Regions from separate parts of the Homo sapiens genome. Here region 1 is linked to region 2. Evidence: fine-mapped expression QTL. Tissue or cell type: blood mononuclear cells. Region 2 holds a variant in brackets; the other region holds the start of a gene. All regions are shown on one strand. Distances are from middle to middle.

The links. PIP is the estimated chance that this variant, and not a neighbour inherited with it, causes the effect.
Region 1: PTPRB starts here. The variant in region 2 is fine-mapped to the expression of PTPRB in blood mononuclear cells (TOPMed, PIP 0.96).

The regions. Positions count from the first base shown.
Region 1 is chr12:70,632,507-70,643,801 of GRCh38, forward strand. It overlaps PTPRB (protein tyrosine phosphatase receptor type B), which reads right to left and starts at 4,923. Exons shown (of 34, transcript NM_001109754.4): 1 at 4,835-4,923; 2 at 3,165-3,560. The coding sequence starts at 4,889. It overlaps PTPRR (protein tyrosine phosphatase receptor type R), which reads right to left. Exons shown (of 14, transcript NM_002849.4): 14 at 5,573-6,771. The coding sequence ends at 6,678.
Region 2 is chr12:70,693,154-70,704,448 of GRCh38, forward strand. It overlaps PTPRR (protein tyrosine phosphatase receptor type R), which reads right to left. Exons shown (of 14, transcript NM_002849.4): 7 at 7,984-8,170; 8 at 5,112-5,196. Among named protein-coding and RNA genes, the nearest start is that of PTPRB, 61 kb to the left of the region's middle. The variant T/A (reference allele first, on the strand shown) is at 5,325.

The DNA.
Region 1 (11,295 bases), 61 kb before region 2:
ACATGGCACACGTATACCTATGTAACAAACCTGCACATTGTGCACATGCACCCTAGAACTTAAAGTATAATTAAAAAAAAAAAAGGAATGAGTGCTTAATGTGACATACTGGCAAGGACATATATTGGAAAGGAAAGTACTTTCTTCTCTCTACATTCTATTGTAATTACCTATTTATTTACTTATCTGATTTCCCCATTACTTTAAGGAATAAGATGTATTTAATGATTTGCAACCTTGGCTGCACATCAGAATCACCTAGGAAGTACTTTAAAAATACAATACCTCATTTAGTCAGCTTAGAGGATAAAGCTCAGGTTTTATACTCTAGTATTAGTTAAAAGCTGCCATGTGAGTCTAATATGCAGCTTGGGTCAAAAATCACTTGTGGAGGGCACCTTAGTACTAGCACAGGGTACCTGAGTGCTAGCACAAGCTCTGGCACATAGTAGGTGTTAAATAAATATTACCTGGAAACTTGAATACAATCATTAATGTGTCTTTTATGAAACAAATATGAAACATGTGGCTTAGATTTTTACCTTCATAGGTCTGCTTTCTTTCATGGAAGAACACACAAAAAAATTCACATCCCATAGATGAACAACACATGTATTTGTGCTGCTGTAGATTATAATACTTAGTTACCAACTTAAACAATGATTTGAAATCACTCATTGCAAACATATGAATGCATTTCGGTTAATTTTTCACAGTAGCTACTCTAGCAAGTCAGTGAGCTCTCATGATATAGGTCTACAAGTATTATTCTTAAACTTTTATCAGGGCTGGGCATGGTGATTCATGCCTGTAATCCCAGTACTTTGGGAGGCTGAGGTGGGAGGATCACTTGAGCCCAGGAGTTGGAGGCTACATTGAGCTATGATCACACCATGGCTCTCCTGCCTGGGCAACAGAGCAAGACTTTGTTTCTAAAAACAAAAACCAAAGAAAAAACAAAAACAAAAAGAAAAAACCCCACAATGGCATATTTAAGATGGAGCAGAAAAATATATCTGTTAGCTTATAATTGTGTTAAAGCAAAAGTATGTGTTATACTTATGTGTACTCAAATATAAGGGTGTTTTTGTACCACAATTGTGCAAATTTTAACTTCTGCTTTTTCTAGAAATTAATTTCTTTCCCCAACACATATTATCAGGCATTTTTTGAATATAGCATTGTTCAGTGGTTAATTGCAAATGGCTTATTCTAGTTACCTTATTTTCGAAGTCTATTACTAGACATATTTGTATGAGGGTCATAGGAGGTAGTTTTTCTATGAATTATCTTTTATCTTGAATAACTCACCACTGAGTCCATATCTACTTTTTTTTAAAGTTCCAACTAAGTAATCTTATGTTAAATAAGGTTTGATTGGGGTTTGGGGATGAATCTCACTTCTTGTGTAAAACAGTAAAAATGGAACAGTTATAATGTTTCTATATTATTTAGGAGAGGCCTTGATAGATGAACCACAGGAAAGGTATTGTACAAATTGGTGCTATATGCTGAATATTTTCTGATAAAGTTGAATTTTTGAGTAGGTTTTTTTCTCATAGGCAGAAATGATATAAGAACAGAAACTATAACTCTCAACTTTTATTGTAGCAAAGCATACCACTTATTGTAGAAAAGCATAACACATTCAAATGGCATCTAGTTAAATGCTTGTTTTAACTTACAGAATGAATGAGTGAGAAAAAATTGTCCAAAGATTACCATGGTGGAAAGACTAATATAAGCCTCACAAATCAACACCTAAGGAAAAGACTTAACAATACAGTGGATGCTGATCTCCATATTGGATTATGGATCAAAATTTTCTGGTGATTAATAAATATCAAGTATTATGCACAAATCCAGATTTCCTGAAACAGAATCTTGGAGGTGGTTGTAGAGGAAAAAATGGTGGGAAAGAATCCTGGGAATGTGTATTTTTTTTTAAATTTTTATTTTTAGTTTTGGGGTACATGTGCAGGGTGTGCAGATTTGTTACATAGGTAAACGTGTGCCGTGGTGCTTTGTTGCACCTATCAACCCATCACCTAGGAATTAAGCCCAGGATGCATTAGCTACGGGAATGTGTATTTTTAGTAAGCCCTCCCTTTTCTACCCCAGGTGATTCTTAGGCAAGCCATGGGGCAAGTCTGTGGTCAAGCATTTGGGAACCTCTGGTATAGTAAAATGTACACTGAACAAAGAGTCAAAAAACTTAGGCTCTAATCATAGATCTGCTGCTAATTTATCTGGGACAATTTACTTAACCCTGAAAAATTTGTCTTCTTAGTGAGGCGCTTCGTTTCTTGATAACTTTTCCCATGCTTTGTAAGGTTCATTGGTGCCTAATATATTGTGATTCATCAGTTTTATCTTTCATGACTTTCTAAAGCAAACCTCTAATAGAAGAGTAAATACACAATTGCATGATTAACTTCAAGAGAAGATTAAACTGCCTATATATTCCACAAGCAAAAATTCCTAGCTCAGGACTGAACTGTGTCCTGCACCAGGAGCTTGCACATGTGTATAACATATTTTCTACATGTGTCCATTATCTGGGTTATATCCATTAATGGTCAATAAATTAGAAAAATCTGTGGCTGCCCATTGATTCTTAACATTTCAAAAGTGTGTTACCTCCAAAAGATATCTACCCCTAAACAGCAATACAAGAGATTTGCAAAAACACAACTATCTTCCAGTCTTATCAAGCACCATTCTGATGTTCTAATAATTTATTATAATTAGCAAATAGAAGTGTCTGTCAATAAAATCTAATAATTTTCCGATTACTGACTTTAGTCATTACATATATAGGCTGTGTATATGCCTACATCCATATTCCTACATCTAACAGTGCTTAACTGGCAGAGAAGAGAGGCTCATGAAATAGTTGTTGAATTAATAAAAGAAGCAAGACAAGAAGGGAAGGAAGAAAAAGCAATAGAAAAAGTTGGGCTTATTTTAATGAGGGTCATGAAGTTTTCCATCATTGGGCACGTCACCATCCACCTCCATTAGCTTATGAATCTTCCATAGGAAATATGTTGGGGCATGTGGACTTCCCTTAAATGTAAAACAAACAAACAAACAAACAAACAAAACCCCCAAGATATTTAGTAGAAAGACTTTCAGGATTTGCTCTGAAAGGAATAGCTCACCTTTTTGTAAACAGAGGCTTTCATTGACCAGTTTTCCCTCCTTGTTGACATCTATTTTCATCCAGCTATGGAGGTATTTCCTGGCCTTCTTGACCACTACTCTGGAGCCTTGTTTCTGGAGAAAGAGAGAGGCATTTTCCACCTCAAGGAAGCCTTCCTGATCATAGCAGGTCCATCGGGGTGCCTGGGAACAGCGGTCCAAGATGGCTGAGCGGGAGGGGCCGCGGGAAGAGTTGGAGATGGCCAAGCACAGTGCAGATTTAACATGAAGGAGCTTTTCATCCTCAGTCCACATCCACTGCTGGTTCTGGATGGTCCTGTTGCATGAGCCCACGACCACTTTCTCATTTTTGAAAAGACACTGTTGTTTCTGGACATGGACAATCTGAAACCCTTCTGGAAGATGAAAAGCTCATAAAGCACTATGTAGCAAATTATGAGGCCCATTAGAAAACGGAAGAACCCACCCACAAATGAGCTAAATAAAATCACTAGTTTTACTTATATTTTGTTATTTCTATCATTTCAAGTGAACATTCTCATATTTAACACATGTGATTTAAAATTCCAAAGCTGACGATATAAAATGTCAATATGTTACACTTAACTCCCCATCTTTTTTTTTTTTTTAATTTTCACATGCTTTAGGGGAAAAAAGCACACCTCTTATTGGAAAATGAAAGGAAGCTTGGAAAGAAACAAAACCATCCAAAGTATATAGTATATTTTAGCCCAATTAGTTAGATATGCTGAAGTTATGAAATGCTCAGCTCCCTTTTTAACCATTTGACATATTCGATATAAGCTTCCTCCCTTACCTTAAAAAAGCACCCCCTTTTCCAGTCTTTAAATTCACATTGCAGTATTTATATACAAATTTCATAGTTTGAATAACAATTTTTTAAAATTGCATACATTTATCAAAAAATAAAACAAATTTTCCCACTTCTCCAAGCACAACCTCCTAGCTAATTGCAGCCAATGAAAGTATTGATTATCACAAACTAAATTTCCTTTAGTCGTGGAGAGGAGCATTTCTCTATTTTATGACAATATCTACAGTTTTCTCTCAAATACGAATAGATTTTCTAAAAATCATCATGTGCCAGTGTAAGAAAATTAAACATCAAATTGCTAAACATCAGTATTAAAGAGCAAGATACTCTGGCTCAGAAACCATTTTCAATGAGGTTTTACTTAAATTGCCCAGCTCGCTCATGAAAATGTTCAGCCCTCCCAAATGACAACTTCCAAATAAAACACACTACATTTCCTCACCCCCTTTAATCATATTCCTTCAATTTTCTTTCTTCAACACAAAAGAAAATAAAACTATAACCGGGTCGGAAAAAGGCTTGGGGAAAGCCACAGACTGTTATATAATAATACAAACTTTTCCTCGGGGTTCTTTACGCTCTGCTCTAAATGTATCATTTCAGGGGCTGCCTGAAGCATTTGGAGGATGAGAGGAGAGCATTTATTTTCTTTTGGAGAGAAATCTCAACAGTATGGGCATAGCTGGCTCCTTTTATTCCTGCTTTTCATCGTCTTTGGCTAAACTGCCATGGAGACCTGGCCCCTTCTACCTTATTTCAGACACTTCAAAGACCAGGGACTCCTTGGCTAGATCTTGAAGAAATGCCTCAGGACACTGAGGCAGACCCACTCACCTGAGTTCCTGAAGATCAAGCAGGTAAGAATCACCATGTAAAATTCAGCCTCCATTTTCCACTTAGCAACTGTTCATGCTTCGCTTGGGGAAAAAAAAAATTCTCCCAGATAAGAGAAGCAAAGACTAGGAAGGAAATGTGCCTTCATGGTGGGGGGAAAAGTCAGTGACGAGCACTTCCTCCTATTGAATTGTTTGGGGAAGTTTTACACCAGTGTCCTTTTGTCTGTTTCCTTAGAAAGAAGGGATTATGATTACCTCTTTTTTTTAATGTAGAAAATATTCCAGCCTTCAAGAGCAGAGTAAATCTCGTTAAGACCTCACCTACCTTTCCTTTGGCATGTGACTGCTTCTTAACCTCAAGAAGAAAGAAAGGAATTGAAATCTCAGATAATTGAATGTTCCTGAAACATTACATCTCTTCAGGTGATGTGATTCTGCTGAATAAACATAAGCCATGTAATTGATGAGGGTCTATGACAAGTGATATAAAGACATAAACATGTACTGTTTGTATAATGATATGCTGCGAGTCTATTGAGGAAAACCACATAATGATGGCACTTCTAGATCATTATCTCCCAAGTGATGACAATATTACATTTTGAGATCGTCATCTTCACTGGGGAGATGCAGACACTAAAATTAAACCCATCACATTATCTACTTTGGTCTTCCCCAAACAGAGGATGGCGTCTTTCCAAATAGAAAAAAAAAAAAGAATATGCTTTACTCAGTATTTAGTATTAAGAGTTTATTGGCAGTATGAAACAAAGTCAACATTGCTGCATTAAAAATTCATATATGAGCAGAACAGCTAGTGTTTGCTGAGGGTAGTTATTTTAATTTTTTTTGTCTCTTGAAGATTGAAAGCTTTCAGAAATGTAAGGACATACATGGAAATGTCCTTATAAGGAGCCTCGAAAATGGGACAGATTATATCATTCCTGAAGGCATATACCTTTTGTTGAGAGAGAGATTCCAGGTAGATAGCATATTCAAAAATCCCTTCTTAGCAAAAGAGAGACAAGTAGTTAAAACTCTTGATACTTCAGAGTTGCTACAAATTTGTTTTTCCCTTTTAAAGTAAAATGACTCACGATGTGGAAATACAGTGGATAGAGTTCTGGAGCAGAAGCCACCTTTATGCCCAATAATAGAGAGTAAATACATATATACCCAATGACAATCATTGTGCTCTGTAATTGTTTGATAGGAGGGACTATAAATACACATTTAATAGGTAATATTATCAAGACACATTTCCATATAAAATAGTTACTGTTTTTGATTTTTGTTTTTCAAAAACAAAGACTTCTCTGTTAAAAATCCATTATCAATCACTTGCAACTTTAGCAGCAAGATTCTGGTAACTGAGAAAGGTAATAGCACTTCAAAACAGGAACAGTTTAACAGCTGACAGTCCATTCACAAGACAGATTTTGCAAACATTAAAGCATCTAACACATAATACGAATGTCTTCAGCAGCTCATCCAGTCATCACCTGATGACATTTATTACTGAATATTACATACATACATTCTGTGTGGCAGATAGAGTCAGTACAGACAAAACAAAATCTGCCTTAGGCTGTGTGATAAACCTATCATACCTCCATCATCAAAAAACCTTCAGAATAATTTGGGGGATGCTTACAAATGCATTCATATACACAAGGAGCTGGAAATCTTAAATATGTTGCCCAGTCTTCCACAATCCATGCCATACATGGGCTTCAGAGCTTCTCCTTCCTTCCATTGCAGGAAGCTCCTTCTAGAAGCCTTGGGTGGGTAATTTGATTAATCACCCCAAGAGATTGATGGTCTGACAAGTCTTCAATGACTCACTGGACAGTCTCTGCTGAAAGTCTGCTCTCATACAGGCACAGAGCATGGTGCACAAATTCATACTGCTCACTGGTTTGCACCATTCCACCTCTGCAAGGAAGAAATCATAAAATAACTGATTTTGCTAAAATCTTGCAATTTCAAGTAACACAGAGATTTCATCCAAGCTAGGGTATTATGCCAAAGACACATAGAACAGTCGACCTAGTGGTTCTTTTGTTATCCCTCTTACCTGTGTCCAAATGTCTCAACTATCAAAGTTAACATGGTAATGTATATAAAGGGCTTAACACAGTTCCCAGCACACACTAGGCACGTGATTAATTTTTACCTGTGTAACATTACTGGGGAGGTGGTACAGCCTAATGATCAAGTACTTGGATTTGGCATCAGCCAAGGTGAGTTCAAATCCCTCCTCTGCCAATTCTTAGCTGTATGCATCTTGGACAAATTCCTCGAAACCCCTTGCACTTTAGTTTCTTCCTCTGTTAAAGCAGGATAGTAACAGTAACTACTGCTGTGAAGGTTAAATAAATTCATTGTAGCTGGTATATTTGTATTACTTCTCAGGTGCCTCATGATTCATCTCTTGTTAAAATGGTTTATACATTTGGCTTAAAATTGATTGACGGAGACAAACCAAACAAAACTCATCTGCAAAATGTTGCTTTCTACAAGTAAAATGAAGTCTACCTTGGAATGGTTTATTTGAATATGTTGTACAGAAGCAACCTTAGCCTTTTGGTGTACGGGGTGTCTAAACACAATAGTGGGTGGGTCCTTAAATGAGTTGGAAAAAGGGAATTGGCTCTGCTGTGACATTTTCCTCTTGGTTATCACCATTATCATCACTAGCTGCCCAGCACCCTCCTTGTCAATGGATTCATAGAAAGCACTTGCCTTCATGAGAAATAACGGTGCTTCTCATTATGTTTTTATATACATAATACCTATATCACATTTTCCCCCTTCATAATTATGATCCTTTTTTAATTTTAGTTTTTGAGAAAACGTCTCCTTAATTGCTTAGGCTGTTGTGCAGTGGCATGATCACAGCTCAGTGCAGCCTCAACTTCCTGGGATCAAGCAATTCTCCCACCTCAGCCTCTGGTGTAGCTGGGACCACAGGCACCACCACACCTGGACAATTTTTAAATTTTTTTTTTCTTGTAGAGACAAGGCCTCACTATGTTGCCCAGGCTGGTCTCCTGGACTCAAGTGATCCTCTTGTCTTGGGCTCCCAAAGTGATGGAATCACAGGCTTGAACGACGGTGTCCAGTCCTATAATTATGATTTTTTAGCTTGACAAAGTTACCAGACATTAATATGTTACTATTCCTGCTCACTGTATAAAAGCATCACTATCGGTAACTATTTAAAGTCTTGTAAATTCTCTGTAACTCTGCAATCATGCAACTGATCTTATCTTTTAGTTTAACTCTATGTTTTAACCAGATTTTTCCAAGTGGTTGTTAGTATCATTCAAAATAACTTTCAGATTATTTAGGCACTTCAACTTAAAAACAAGATATCTTGTCTCACTGTAACAAGACTTCTAGTTAATGGTAATAATAAAAACTGGGCTTCTATGTTTATTTGTCAATCTATGTCAATATTAGAGCAGTAAAACTTCCTTGTTTTAAACTAAACAGTGATTCCCCAGGAAAATTAACATGATGTCAAAATGATGTAATTGGCAAAAAATAAAGAGGTAAATTCACAGTTTTTGGTGACAGCAACTTATTGACAGAAGTATTTAATTGGTCTTCCTCCCCTAGAGCTGTACATTTTGTTGCATTGAAGGCAACCTTCTGGGCTAAGTATTCCTTGGTCAGAAGTGAACAACAGAAATGGCCAGCTGAGAATGTGGTAATGGTTTATCTTCTTAGCTGTGTGATGACATCTGGGCTCATCTAAAATCATAGCAGGTGTTCCGAAGATGCTGGCTTGAACTGTGAAGCTTGGGAGACACCACCACAGTAAATATTAGGGTAGCTCCAGGGAGCTGAGAGGTGCCTCCCTTCCTCTGGCATTTGCACAGCTCAGGGCACCATTACTCCCTCTTGAGCTGCAGACAGTATGTGGAAGCTTCTATGTGCTCCACCTCTTAGGCTCTGGTCTGTCAGCTTCCTCTCACCATTTACCTCACTTTGAGGCAAGATTTTCCCCTTCTTGTATGTTCTGGTCAGCACTGGTATTTACATGTCCAACTGGTGAATGAATGGAGACACAGTTTAGAATTTAATAACTGTTTCACCCTAAGTGGGTCAGTGGTGTAATTTAATGGTTGGAGTATATTTACTATGACATTCTGTTCACTAAATCAAGGTTGTTTTAGCCAGTGAAAGTGGGGAAGATGGAGAAGCATACTCATTAATTGTGGGCTGGCAAAATTCTTGCAGGTCTGAAGGCTTCAGGAAAGTATATGAAAAGTTCTCTTACCTCCCACTTAATTTGGAAAATAAAAATGAAAAAAACTGGCATCAGAGGAATTCTTAGAGATCATCCATTCTAGTCACTGACAATATAGCTTTTTTAGAAATCTTGCAATTTTAGAGGCAGCCTTTTCCAAGGTTGGCAGGAAAACTTTTAAGACATCAACATGAATCTGTCCTTTCTAACTTTCACCGCATTGGTCCAACTGAAATAACCCAAAAGACGTCTTAAGGCTCCCCTGTAGTCACACAACAGCTCTCCAAAGGCTGGAAAACAGCCATCAAAGTCCTATAATCTTTTCTTCTTTAGACTAAACATCCTGTGGTCACTCAATATTTCTGTACAGCCTGGTTTTTCTGTCACTCACCACTCTAGTCTCCCTCTTCTACAGGCTATTTTATCAAATATGACCTTCTTAGAGAGTTGTGTCTCCTTCTGATGAGATCTATGAAGCAGGCTTATTTTCTCTTCCAGCTGCACGTTAGAGACCAATAGATCTGTGTTTGCAGGTGCATCAGGTGGTGAGGTCCCCCAGTGCCTACATGGTGCCTGGTTCTCGGTAGTATTTTAAGATACTAACTGACGGTGTAGATTAAATAAAAAGTCAACAAGACTTTTTTTGAATGTGGACATTATAGCTTTCTCCCATCCTGTAATTATGCTACTGGATTTTTGAAACTAAATGCAAGGCTTTCTATTTATTCTTGTTAATTTCAACTTGTTAGTTTCAGCACAATGCTCTTGTTTACTGGATCACTATCTATCGTCAATATATTAGTCTTCCATTTCTCACTCCCAGCGTTGTGTCTCCCAGGTATTTAACAAGGATCCCTTACATCTTTTTATCTAAGGCATTATTAAAAAATAGAAAAAGAGACAAAGTAGGGTCTTTAATATGAGTAAGTTGATATCATGATATATACTATCTAATCCCATTCTATAATTATTTCCAACTAGGTTGTAGGTCCTTTAAAGACCTACAAGCATAATGGCATGGTCTTCTTCTACTTGTAACAATAAAAAGCACTTACGAGTCCTAGGTAAATACTTGTCAAATGAATTACCCAGGTCATGCTATTTTCATGTCATGTGAAAACAGATAAACTCTAGGCTAAAAGAAAGCAAAAGGTATTCCAGGATGCATTCACTGGAGGCTGGTTCAAATTCAGGAACTCATCATAATCATCTCTGAAAATATTAAATAAATGTCCTATTGCATATATTGATATATAGAATAGTCTATTGGCTGGATGCAGTGGCTCATGCCTATAACCCCAGCACTTTGGGAGTGCTGGATGGATCACTCGAGCCCAAAGTGGGAGGATCACTTGAGCCCAGGAGCTCGAGACCAGCCTGGGTAACATAGTTAGACCCTGTCTACAATTTAAAAGAAAAATTAGCTGGACATGGTGGTATATGCCTGTGGTCCCAACTACACAGGAGGTTGAGGCCAGAGGATAGCATTTGCTCTATAACAGGTAATCCATTCTTAGAAAGGTCAACAGAGTCTTCTTTCTTCTTATTTTTGATATGGGGTCTTGCTTTGTTGCCCAGGCTGGAGTGTAGTCATGCAATCACAGCTCACTGCAGCCTTGGCCTCCCAGGCTCAGGTGATTCTCCCACCTCAGCCTCCCAAGTAGCTGGGATGACAGGTGCATGCCACCATACTGAGCTAATTTTTTCTGTGTGTGTGTGTTTTTTGTGTTTGTTTTGTTTGTTTTGTTTTTTAAGAGAGAGAGAGGGTTTTGCCATGTTGCCCAAGCTGGTCTTGAACTCCTAGGCTCAGGCAATCCATCCACCTCAGCCTCCCAAAGTGCTGGGATTACAGGCATGAGCCACCATGCCTGGCAAATGCAGTTTTTTAGATAGGCTGGTCATAGCAAAAAAAGAAACACCTAAGAAGCTAGTACAGTGTCTGTATACAAAATATATTTATGGAATAAATGTATAAAGCTTGGTTAACTATGGAACTCTCAAGAGAGCTCTATAGTTATTCATCCTCAGGAGAGCTCTGACTTGACTCCAGGAAGCTCTTAGGTCAGATAGGTTTCATGGATTTGCTAAAATCTGGATCTATATTACTGATATAAAGTTCCCAATACAAAGTGGTTCTGGGAGGTGAGAAACAAGGGTACTCTTTTTCTTACTTTTTTTTTCTTTTTCTTTTTGGGGCAGGG
Region 2 (11,295 bases):
ATAATGCCTATGATGTATATGATTTACTGGTAAAGCTAAAAACTGCTTAGAAACAGTTTCCCTGTAAAGCTAAATTATGTTGGTAATTAGTAACTTACAGTATTTTCCAAGTATTTAGAAGTTTCCAAATCCTTTTTATTAAAAATTCAGAGAGGGGAGTCTCACTTTGTTGCCCAGGCTGAATTGCAGTGGCTACTCCCAGATGTGATCACAGCTCACTGCGACCTCAACCTCCCGGGCTCAAGTGATCCTCCTGCCTCAGCCTCCCAAGTAGCTGGGACCACACATGTGCACCACCATGCCTGGCTACATTTTGTATTTTTTGGTAGAGATGAGGTTTTGCCATGTTGCCCAGGCTAGTAATTAAACTTTTTTTGTGTGTGTGGAAATGGGGTCTTATTATATTGCCCAGGCTGGTCTCAAACTCCAGGACATGAGCCACTGTGTGTGGCTCCAACTACTTCCTTTTACAAATGCAAGAATACAACATATAACTGAGTATGGGGAAATGTAGGTTTCCAAGAAAAACTCTTGTAATATATAGCTTGTACTAAAAAAAAAAGCCAAGAATTAAACAAAAAATGTATAATCATCATCGTTTTCATCACTACTGTTATAAATGAATGAAAATGGGGCTCTTGAGTACTTTGCTTTTAAAACTGTAAACTTCTCTATACATAGATGGTACCCCTATTTCCTGGAATTGGTTCTGAGGTTAGAAATGGATTCATCTTCAGTTAGATAGGGAGGGAAAGAGAAACTAACATTAGCTGAGGGCTTACTATTAGTTGGAACTTTGACAGACATTTTACACATACTATCATTTAATTTTCTCGGTAGCCTTGTAGGAGAGTATTGTTATCACTACTTTTGGGAATAAAGGATGGCATAGGGAGATTAAATATCCTGCCAAAAATTATAAATGTTTTTGTTGGGGTAGGAAATCAAATCTAATTCCAGTATCTTGCTTTAGCTACATAACTTGTTGCTTTAATGAGTGGTTCACTTATTTGCATATCTACTCTGTGCTAGGTACTTTATATAATAAAAAAGGAAACATAATTTAAGTAGGAAACATTATTAGATGTTAAAATTTTAAATATAAAATGATGACCTGAGTAAATGGCATTCTTTAAGTGTATCTATATTATCTTATATTTGTATCAACACACTGCATAAAAGAAATATGCATACAATTTATTATTATAGTGCAGCACTATTCACAATAACAAAGACATGGAAACAACCTAGATGCCCATCAACAGTGGATTGGATAAAGAAAATGTGGTACACATACACCATGGAACACCATGAAGTCATAAAAAAGAACAAAATCATGTCCTTTGCAGCAACATGGATGCAGCTGGAGGCCATTATTCTAAGCAAATTAACACAGGAACAGAAAACCAAATATTGCATGTTCTCACTTATAAGTGAGAGCTAAATTCTGGATACACATAGACATAAAGATGAAAACAATAGTAACTGGGACTCCAAAAAAAGGGAGGGAGGGAAAGGGAGAAGGGCTGAAAATCTTCCTATTGGGTACTATGTTCACTCTCTGGGTGTCATGCCGTCAGAAGAAGCCCAAACGGCAGCATCACACAATATACCCTTGTAACAAACCTGCACAGGTACCCCCTGAATCTAAAGTAAAAATAAAAAATTTAAACTTATTATTACAGTATTTTATTGTGTGCTAATAATTTTCTATTGATGTATGATTATTATTACAGTATTATATTTTATTGTCTGCTAATAATTTTCTATTGATGTATGATTGTTTTTTCCTACTACTTTTGTGATTTAGGATGTAGACATATTTTTATCACTAATATTTGTTTACACTGCAAAATAATTTGATATAAACTTGACTTTAGCATTTTAATCTCAGCCAAGATAACACTGTCATTAGAGAAATGACTATAATTTAATTTATAATTATAAATTGATTTATTCATAATTGATTCTTGCCTATCCATATATCTGTTGCAAGGCATTCTCAGAATTGTATAATGTTGCTATTATGTACAAGCTGTCAAGCTTTTAGAACTAAGAAGAGTTTAGTGTAGGTTAAAACTAAAAACAATCATAATGTTTAAATTCTTGATCATTTAATAATCATCATTTTATGTAATATTTCAAGTTTATCTCATATTACAGTCTAAAACCATAAAGAACATCTTTGTGTATTCATTCCAGGCTTTTTGGATGCTTTCACCCAATAGTGTGGCTTTTCTAAGCTATATTTCCTAAATTATATTTTGTGCAACAGAGGGTGGTGGGTGGGGCATTCAGCCTGCAGACATTTTCAACAGAAAATCCATCATTTGCAACATCAGCTGTCAGCACAGGTGCCCTGAATCCAGCGGTCCACCCAGTTCTGTGAACGGAAAAACTGACACAGGACTATGAAGCAGTTGTCTGATATCATCTGGGCAGGAAATGGAGAAGGCTGAACTTTGAACTAATGCTAATAATTTCCAAATCCTTCTAAAATTAGATGATGGTTTGGGTATATATAATTGTGATGGAGGTATATTCCCTTATTACTTATGTTTGGTATATTTTAGATAAAAATTTAACAGAGAGAGAGAGAGGGAGAGAGAAAACACAAATTCTAACACGCAGCACTTTCATCCCCTTTGGCCAAGTATAGTCATAAAATAACCTTCAATGGTGACTCTACCTTAGGTAAATAAATTTAACTATATAGAGCAGTTAAAAATATGTTATAGTTTAACAATGTATTTCCAATTCCACCAGAAGGGGAAGGCCAAAGATAGTATTAACAGTAATTGTTTAATTACTTTATTACATCACCATTACTATGAATATAAAGAATTTGGTGTCTTATGAATGAATTAATGAACTAAATTATGAAGATTGCTATTTCAATGTCAAAAGTTAAAAAGACTTTGTGGCTCCATCTTTCCTGAGCTTTGTCGTGAGATGTTTACTGATTTTGCCAAAACTCCAACTATATCTGTTTGTTTAGTCATAGAAAATATTACTTCCTCTCCATTTTTTTTTTTTTGCCTAATTTCTCTGGACAGAATTAATTACTCAGTCCTCTCTGAACTCCTACACTGCTTGGGCAGTATCTTTATTCTGGCCTATGCACTGAGCATAATTACCATTTATATGACTCTCGTTTCTAGTCTGTGACCTCCTTGATTTTATAGACTGTTTCTTATTTCTTACTGGTCCCTGGCATTCAGGTCATTGCTTGACGTTAATAAATTCCATGAAGCTCAATCTAGTTTCACATATAGTAGTGGTTCTCAAAGTGGATCCTGGTTTCATCTGGATTGGAATCACCTAGGTGTTTGCTAAAAGTAGTTTTCTGTGCTCAACAGCAGATCTACTTAAACAAAATCCCTGGGGTTGGGCACAGGACTAACAAGGACTCCAGGTCATTGTCATGCACAGCAACATTTTTTTGGTAATAGTTTTATTGAGAAATAATTCACATTCCATACAATCCCCCCATTTCATGTGCCATCACAGCATTTTTTTTTAAATTTTCACAGAGCTGTGCAACAATCACTGTAAATCAATTTTATAACATTCAATTAGCCCCAAAATAAATACAGGTCCTTTAGCAGTCATTCTCCATATCCCCTAATGCTAAGCAACCACTAAGATATTTTCTGTCTGTATAGATTTAGCTATCTGGACATTTCATATAAATGGACTACAAAATATGAGGTCTTTTGTGCCTGGCTTCTTTCACTTAGCATGATGTTTTCAAGGTTCATTCAAGGTTCATCAGTGCCTTGTTCCTTTTTATTGATTCTATTGTGTGACTATACTACATTTTATCTATCCATTTCTCAGCTGATGGTTGCCACTCTTTGGCTATTATGAATAATGCTGTTATAAATATTTTTGTATCATTTTTGTGTGAACACATTTCATTTCTTTTAGGTAATATTTACCTAGAAGTAGAGTGTCCAGGTCATATAGCAACTCAGTTTTATCTTTTAAGGAACTGCCAAACTGTTTTCCTAAGTAGCTGTAGCTGTACTTAAAACTGTAGTGTTAAGTTTCCAATTCTCTACATCCTTGCCAGCATTTTTTATTGTCTATTTTTAAAATTATAGTTATCCTCATGGATATAAAGTACTATCTTGCTGTAGTTTTGATTTCACTGATGGCTAGTGATGTTAAACATCTTTTAATATGCTTGTTGGTCATTTGTACATCTTCTAGGGAGAAATATCCATTGAAATCTTTTGTCCATTTTTTGGGTTGTTTGTGTTTCTATTATTGAGTTGTAAGATTTGCGTATTGTAGCTACATGTCCCTTATTAGATACATGATTTGCAAATATTTATTTTCTTCCATTCTATGAGTTGTCTTTTCACTTCCTTGAAGGTATCCTTTGAAGCACAAAATTTTTAGTATTAATGAAGTTCAATTTTTTTTTGCTGCTGTTTGTGCTTTTGTTGGCTTATCTAAGAAACCACTGACTAATTCAAGGTCATAAAGATTTACAGCTGTTTTCGTTTATGAGTTTTGTAGTTCTAGCTCTTATGTGTAGGTCTCTGGTCCATTTTGAGTCAATTTTTGTCTTCAACTTCATTTTTTTGCATGTGGATATCTGGTTGTTTCTGCTCCATTTGTTGAAAAGACTCTCTTTTTCCCATTGAATTGTTTGACCCTTGACAAAAATCAGGTAGCCATAATGTGTGGCACAACAAAATTTTAGAATATGTGTCTATTGGAATTGTGACCTGGACATTATAATAAGAGTAAAAAGGTAAAATCATTAACTTCAGATAGTTTTAATGATTATTAGTCTTGACATGTGTTTGTAATTCCAAATTTGATATGAAGTGGGTGTTGTAAGAATTGGAAATGCTGAGGTAAGGGTTAATGGGAAGACTTGTCTTGTGCTTTACAATGTAAATTATTATTATTATTTATACTTTAAGTTCTGGGATACATGTGCAGAATGTGCAGGTTTGTTACATAGGTATACATGTGCCATTGTGGTTTGCTTTTGCTGCATCCATCAACCCATCATCTACATTAGGTATTTCTCCTAATGGCTATCCCTCCCCTTGCCCCCCATACAATGCAAATTATAAAATCAAGAAGCTTACTTGGTAAAATGGTCTTATAGCGATTTTTAGTTCCATGACGCGGAATATCAATTTCTTTGGGATCCACAAAGTTCATTGGTATTTCCTGCAAAAATAAATAATATCAAATTAGTGTATCTAATACTGCCACAAAGAAAATCTTCACAGGGGGGCATCTGATCCAGAGTTCTATTGGACTTCAAAGCCACTTAAAAACAACAGATCTAGCACCTC[T/A]GGTGGACCAACACCCTTCCTTTCCTAAACATATCAGCTGCATCCGGACAAGCTGACTTCTAAGAAACAGCTCTGTGTGTTAGAAAATATTGCTTAATATGTAGTCAGTAAGGAGACATATAACACTGGTTAGATTTTAAGAATCCTGCTGTGACATAATTGCTAGAAAGATTAGACAGATGCTAAAAAGTGAATTTTTTTAAAAAACAATGTATTCAAATATATTCCAGTTTTTACATAACTTTAGTACCAAAAATTTTACTATAATAGATTATCTTTTCACACTAATAGTGACTCTTTTAGGATTATTAAAACCTCTTTCCCAAAATGGTAAATATAAAGGGCTTTTTTGTTAATTCAAGTGATGACATGACTTTTTTTTGAATTAAGAAATGGTTTATAACTGGACTGTTCCATTTTAAGTTATAAATGCACTGTTTTTAGTGAAGGGCATTCAAACACTGTTTCTCCCACTTAAGAACATTACTATTCTTATTTTATCAGAGTATACATTATATGCCTCAAGTGATTGGACAGGGAACAATAGGAAAAGAGTGGCTGTATGTAAGTGCATTAGATCTAAAAAGGTGTGTATCTGTAGCTAACCAGGACAAATAAAGCAACAAGCCAAAGTTTTCAAAAGGGTCCAAACAAACATTTGTTTAAAGATTTGATTATACAAAATAGTATGTTCTCTAACTTTGATAAGATTAACATGAACAAAATAACTTTTATGTTATTTAATGACTGATAAACATTAAATATTTGATCAAATAAGATATTTTTACTACTTAAACTTTCTCCAGTAGAAAATTTAACTTAACAGTCTAATATTGATTGAAATAGAAGAAATCATCTTTAAATTCATTCAAATTATCCTAGTTTTCAGTCATTCTGAAAATTTGAGAAAAGCTGGACTATACTATGAATTTGAGGCTTGTTCTACAGAGAGAAACAGCTATTCGTTTATTAATTAATTTATTTTTAGAGATGGGATCTCACTCTGTCACCTAGGTCAGTGTGCAGTGGCACAATCATAGCTCACTGTAACCTCAAACTCCTGGGCTCAAGGCATCCTCCCATCTCAGCTTCCTGAGTAGCTGGGATTACAAGCATGAGCCACAACACCTGGCCCCAAGTTACTTATTTTTAAAATAATTTTTCCTTTACCTGCATTATGCTAGCTATCCATGATATTTATCCCTATTCTCTGCTCCAACTAAATGTTTTAACCTGTTTGTTCCAAGTTATAAAAATAAGCAAAATTGTTGAATATTCAATGGAAAACACATGTTCATGTTTGGTAATTTCAAGCACGTCAGTGTCTTTGGGCAAAGCCACAAAGGTAATATCTTTATTCCTCCCCTTCTTCCTTCTCACCTTCTGTTTTCTGACACACACTGACAGTCTGTCATCTTCCAGCATTCTCTTTCTCCTGTGTACTCCTTCTGGCCTTCAATTTCCTTTCAGGAAAGTGGGCTATGGTAAGGTCTTATTTCATAAACAAAGAGCTGTCTGCAGTTCTAGAAAAAAAAAGCTCTAGGTGTGCCTTTGGCTAGCTGTGTGACCACTGACTTGTTCTTTCATTCCTACAGGTCTCATTTTCTTCACATGTAAAATATGATACACCACAGAGTCTGATTTTCATGTTTGTATTTTACTTTGGACACTTAATAATAGTTGATGGGGCTAATAGTAGATCCAACCCATTGCTGAATCTGTCACCATTAGGATGGCTGCAAATGCCTGAACTAATAATCAATTTATTGTACTCAACCAATACGGCTTAAGATGCAAGAGGTGATCAACAAAGTCAATATTCTCCTTGGGCAACAATTAGACCTAAGAAGGTTTAATCTTACTTCATGTTCTCTGAGTTGATGTATGTTATCATGCTTTAAGCTTTCACTAGCAACACTGGTATGTCTAAAACTGAATTCATCATTCTTTTTAGCCCACACTTGGTCTTCCTCCTGTGTTCCTTATTTCGTTAAAGGGCACCATATGCACCCTGTTGGCCAAACCAAAAACACGAATATCAATCCCTGACTTTTCCATTACTTTTGGCTGCCTCATTCAATTAATCCCACTTCTTGTAGATTCCTACAGATTCTTTCCATTTTCCCTTCTACTATATTAGTTTAGGCCACCAACGCAGTTCCACAGGATTAACACTAGAGCCTCTAAACTGCTCCCTTTTAGTGCCTACTCCACTGCAAATAGAATGATCTATCCAAAACATAAGATAAAGTCCAAGCTCCTAAACATATATTAAGGCTAGGGTTTCTTTTATACTTCTGAGGCTCAACTTTTGCCACTTCCCACCTTGATTTCAATGTTCCAGTTAAACTGAACAGTTTAATTCCCCAGACAGTGACAGCAAGGCTATTCTTTGTCCTGGAATGCCCCTTCTCTGCCCAGCTCCCTATACCACTTATTTGCCTCACCAATTCTTGCATATTCTGCCTTAATTTAGCTCTACATTCCAATTTTAATACTTATCAATAGTGGATGAGACTGAGTGAATCTAAAACCATTTCACTTTGCCATTTGTTTACTGTAGACTGCTTAAGTATAGGACAGTATCATTTCCATACGTCTCTAGTGCCCCATGTATCAAAATACCGACTGAAGAGTGAACAATAAATAGAAGGCTCACCATGAATTCACTTTGGAGTAAATGTGAACTTGCCACGACGTCCCTCAGCTGAGACCTTGTGAGAATTCGGCTGGCTGACTGCAGATACTCCATTGCTACCTTCTCCCGTGGTGTTGGTATAGACACAAAGGGTTCAATGTTCCCCAAGCTACTCATGTCCAATGTAAGAGATACGTTGGACCCTCTTCTACATTGGAGAAGAATGTTATGTTTAAACACCACATACTTATTTTGATTGCAAAAACTTGTCTTTCTGTACATGCACACAATTCAGTGAGAACTTTTACAGAAATAACAACCAACTATATTTTCTCTTTTAGTATCATGGTTGGCCATAGCAACTACCCATAGTTCCTTCACAGGAAAATAACAATTTTGTTGTTGGAAAGAACTCTAAATTGAGAAAATATGCTATAATTTATGAATGCATATACTTATTACAGAAATCATAGGTTGGCTAATAATATTAAGTGAAAAATTAAGTAAAAAAAAATTAGGAAAAGCTATATCTATATCTATATCTTCTGAGTGAATCCCTAAAAAATGGCTTCTGGGGCCAGATGAGGTAGTTCATGACTGCAATCCCAGCACTTTGGGAGGCTGAGGTGGGTGGATTGCCTGAGTTCAGGAGTTCAAGACCAACCTGGGCAACATGGTAAAACCCTGTCTCTACAAAACATACAAAAAGTAGCTGGATGTGGTGACCCACACTTGTAGTCTCAGCTACTAGGGAGGCTGAGGTGAGAGAATCATTTGAGCCCGGGGGGTTGAGGCTGCAGTGAGCCGTGATGGTGCCACTGTACTCCAGCCTGGGCAGCAGAGAGAGACCTTGGCTCTAAAATAAATAAATAAAACAATAGATAAAAATAAAAAAAGATGGCTTCTGTATCCTCTATTTATGTGTATATGTATGCACGCATATGTGAATTGACACACGAATTCATTTAATTTTGTGGTAAACTTATAAGGGGCCATAGAAATCACAGACCCTTAAAATGAGTTACAATTTATCTTCCTCTCATAATTCCCCTTTTCCCGCTGGGGGGCAAGGGGATGCTCTTACAACTTACACAGACCCTGAGTCCTGAGTAGGAAGTGAGGATGCCTTTTACAAGTAATATTAGCTGTGTGGACCAAGGGGTAACTATGAAATAGCATGTGAGAGACTGAGGATTGAAGTCAGAGATGGTGTTTACAAAAACTGTTACATTTAAAGGGGCCGTAGGTGTGTGTCAGATCAAATATAGTGCCAAGCAGTTGGCGGCTCAAGGAAGTAGAGAGCAGGGAAAAACAGGCCAAAATATGTGAGAGTAAAGACAGTAAGAGTAGATGCTAGGCCCAGCAAATTATTCCCTCTGGTATTTTAATACTTACTCTGGAATGCGACATTAAGAAATATTACAGTGGCTTGAGCTTAATTTCAAACAGTGGAAAATTATTGGAATATACAACAACAACAACAAAATCCATTAACGAAAATCTATCAGTTTTCTTCTCTGATGAATCTGCCTCTGGTTGCATTTTTGTTGTCATTCTATAATTTGATATGTAATGTCATTTTTGTTAATTTCTAAATGGTTTGTAATTGAGATTTTAATTTCTACTTTAATTTGATGGATATCTGTAAGTTTAGACATTTATTTTCCTTATAATTTCTAGTTATAGTTGTGGAAATTAGAGAATGGCTGGCCTTTTAATGGTTGAAACTACTTGATTTTTTTTCGAGATAAACACTACATCATTTTCTAAATATTTCACAGATGTTTTGCTGGCATCTAGTTTGATTATCTGTATATGTTCATAAGTATCTATCTGCACATATATACATATATATCACCTTATTTATTATACCATTATTTTATTGAAGATATTACTTTATTCCAACCTATTCTTTCCTTCCTTTTTTTTTTTCTACTGGATTTGTCAAAGCCTGAGATATGTATGTGAGTCTTCCACAATAATTATGCTTGTTATTTTTCCTTCTAACAGTTTTTACCTTGTACATTGCAGCCATTGTGTTATTTGAAGGGATTTAGTCATATCTTCACTATAAATGTTACCAATATTACTTTCTTTCCTGTTAATTTTATATTTGCCCTCACATCTGGCTTTAAAAAATGAATATTGATATGCCTATATGTTTTGGGGGGTATGTTTCTGAAAACTTTTTCTCATCCTATTATTCTTCTTAACTCTTTTGGATCACTGGGTTAGGGATTAGGGAATAGCATTTATTCTAGATGCTCATAAAATCCTGCCTACCTAATAGAGGGATATTTTTCCCACTCCACTTTTTCTTATTTGGTTTTTGGTGGTGGTTGATAGGGTTCCTGTGCTTCTGAGTAGGAGGCAAATAGTTGAAGAAGAGCAAAGAATGGTTCTACTCATGGACCAAGAATTTAATCTATTTTTAGTGGGAAAGTAGTTTTTAAAGTTTTTCAGTTCAGTTCTGGACTTCAAATTGATAGAAAATCCTTACGGATTCTGATAATAGTTTGCCGATTGGTCTTAATATTTAGGGCATTTGTGAGAATTCAGCTTTTGCAAGCTTTATAGATATTTTAGTATGAAGGTGAGAGAGGCCGCTTAAGGGATGGCTAGTCCTATGCCCTTTAAAATCACCATGCCATTCAGTCAAATTTTCAGCCTCAAGAGACAAAATTGTCTGCCCTCTGTCAATGGAGTGATGCTTGTGCTATAGATGGTGAGATCTCTTCCATCTGGAGTGGTCAGAGCAGATTCATGAGGTAGAAGTCATTTAAGTTGGGCTTTGAAAGCAAACGTTTAATAGGTGAGTTTTTGGTCTAGAGTTAAAGAATCTGGTAGGAAAAAAAGTGTAGGAGAATAAATTAATACAACTTTGAAGAACAGCATAGAAGCAGTTTGAGCTAGAGTTCTCTTGTATAAAAATGTATTTTGAAATTGGGGAGCAGGCTTATGTAAGAGAGATGAGAGAGAAGCAACAGTCATAGACACTATAAGACTATAAAAAGCCCAAAAATAGTCCAGGGATGTTGGCTGACATCTGTAATCCCAGCACTTTGGGAGACTGAGGCAGGAGGATCACTTGAGGCCAGGAGTTTGAGACTGGCTTGGGCAACATAGCAAGACCCTGTCTCTACAAAAAATAAAATAGCTAAGTGTTGTGGTGCTTGCCTGTAGTCTCAGCTATTCGGGAGGATGAGGCCGGAAGATTGCTTGAGCCCAGGAGTTCGAGGCTGCAGTGAGGTAAGATTGCACCACTGTCGTACTCCAGGTTGGGTGACAGAGTGAGACCCCATGTCAAAAATAAATAAATAAATAAATACATAA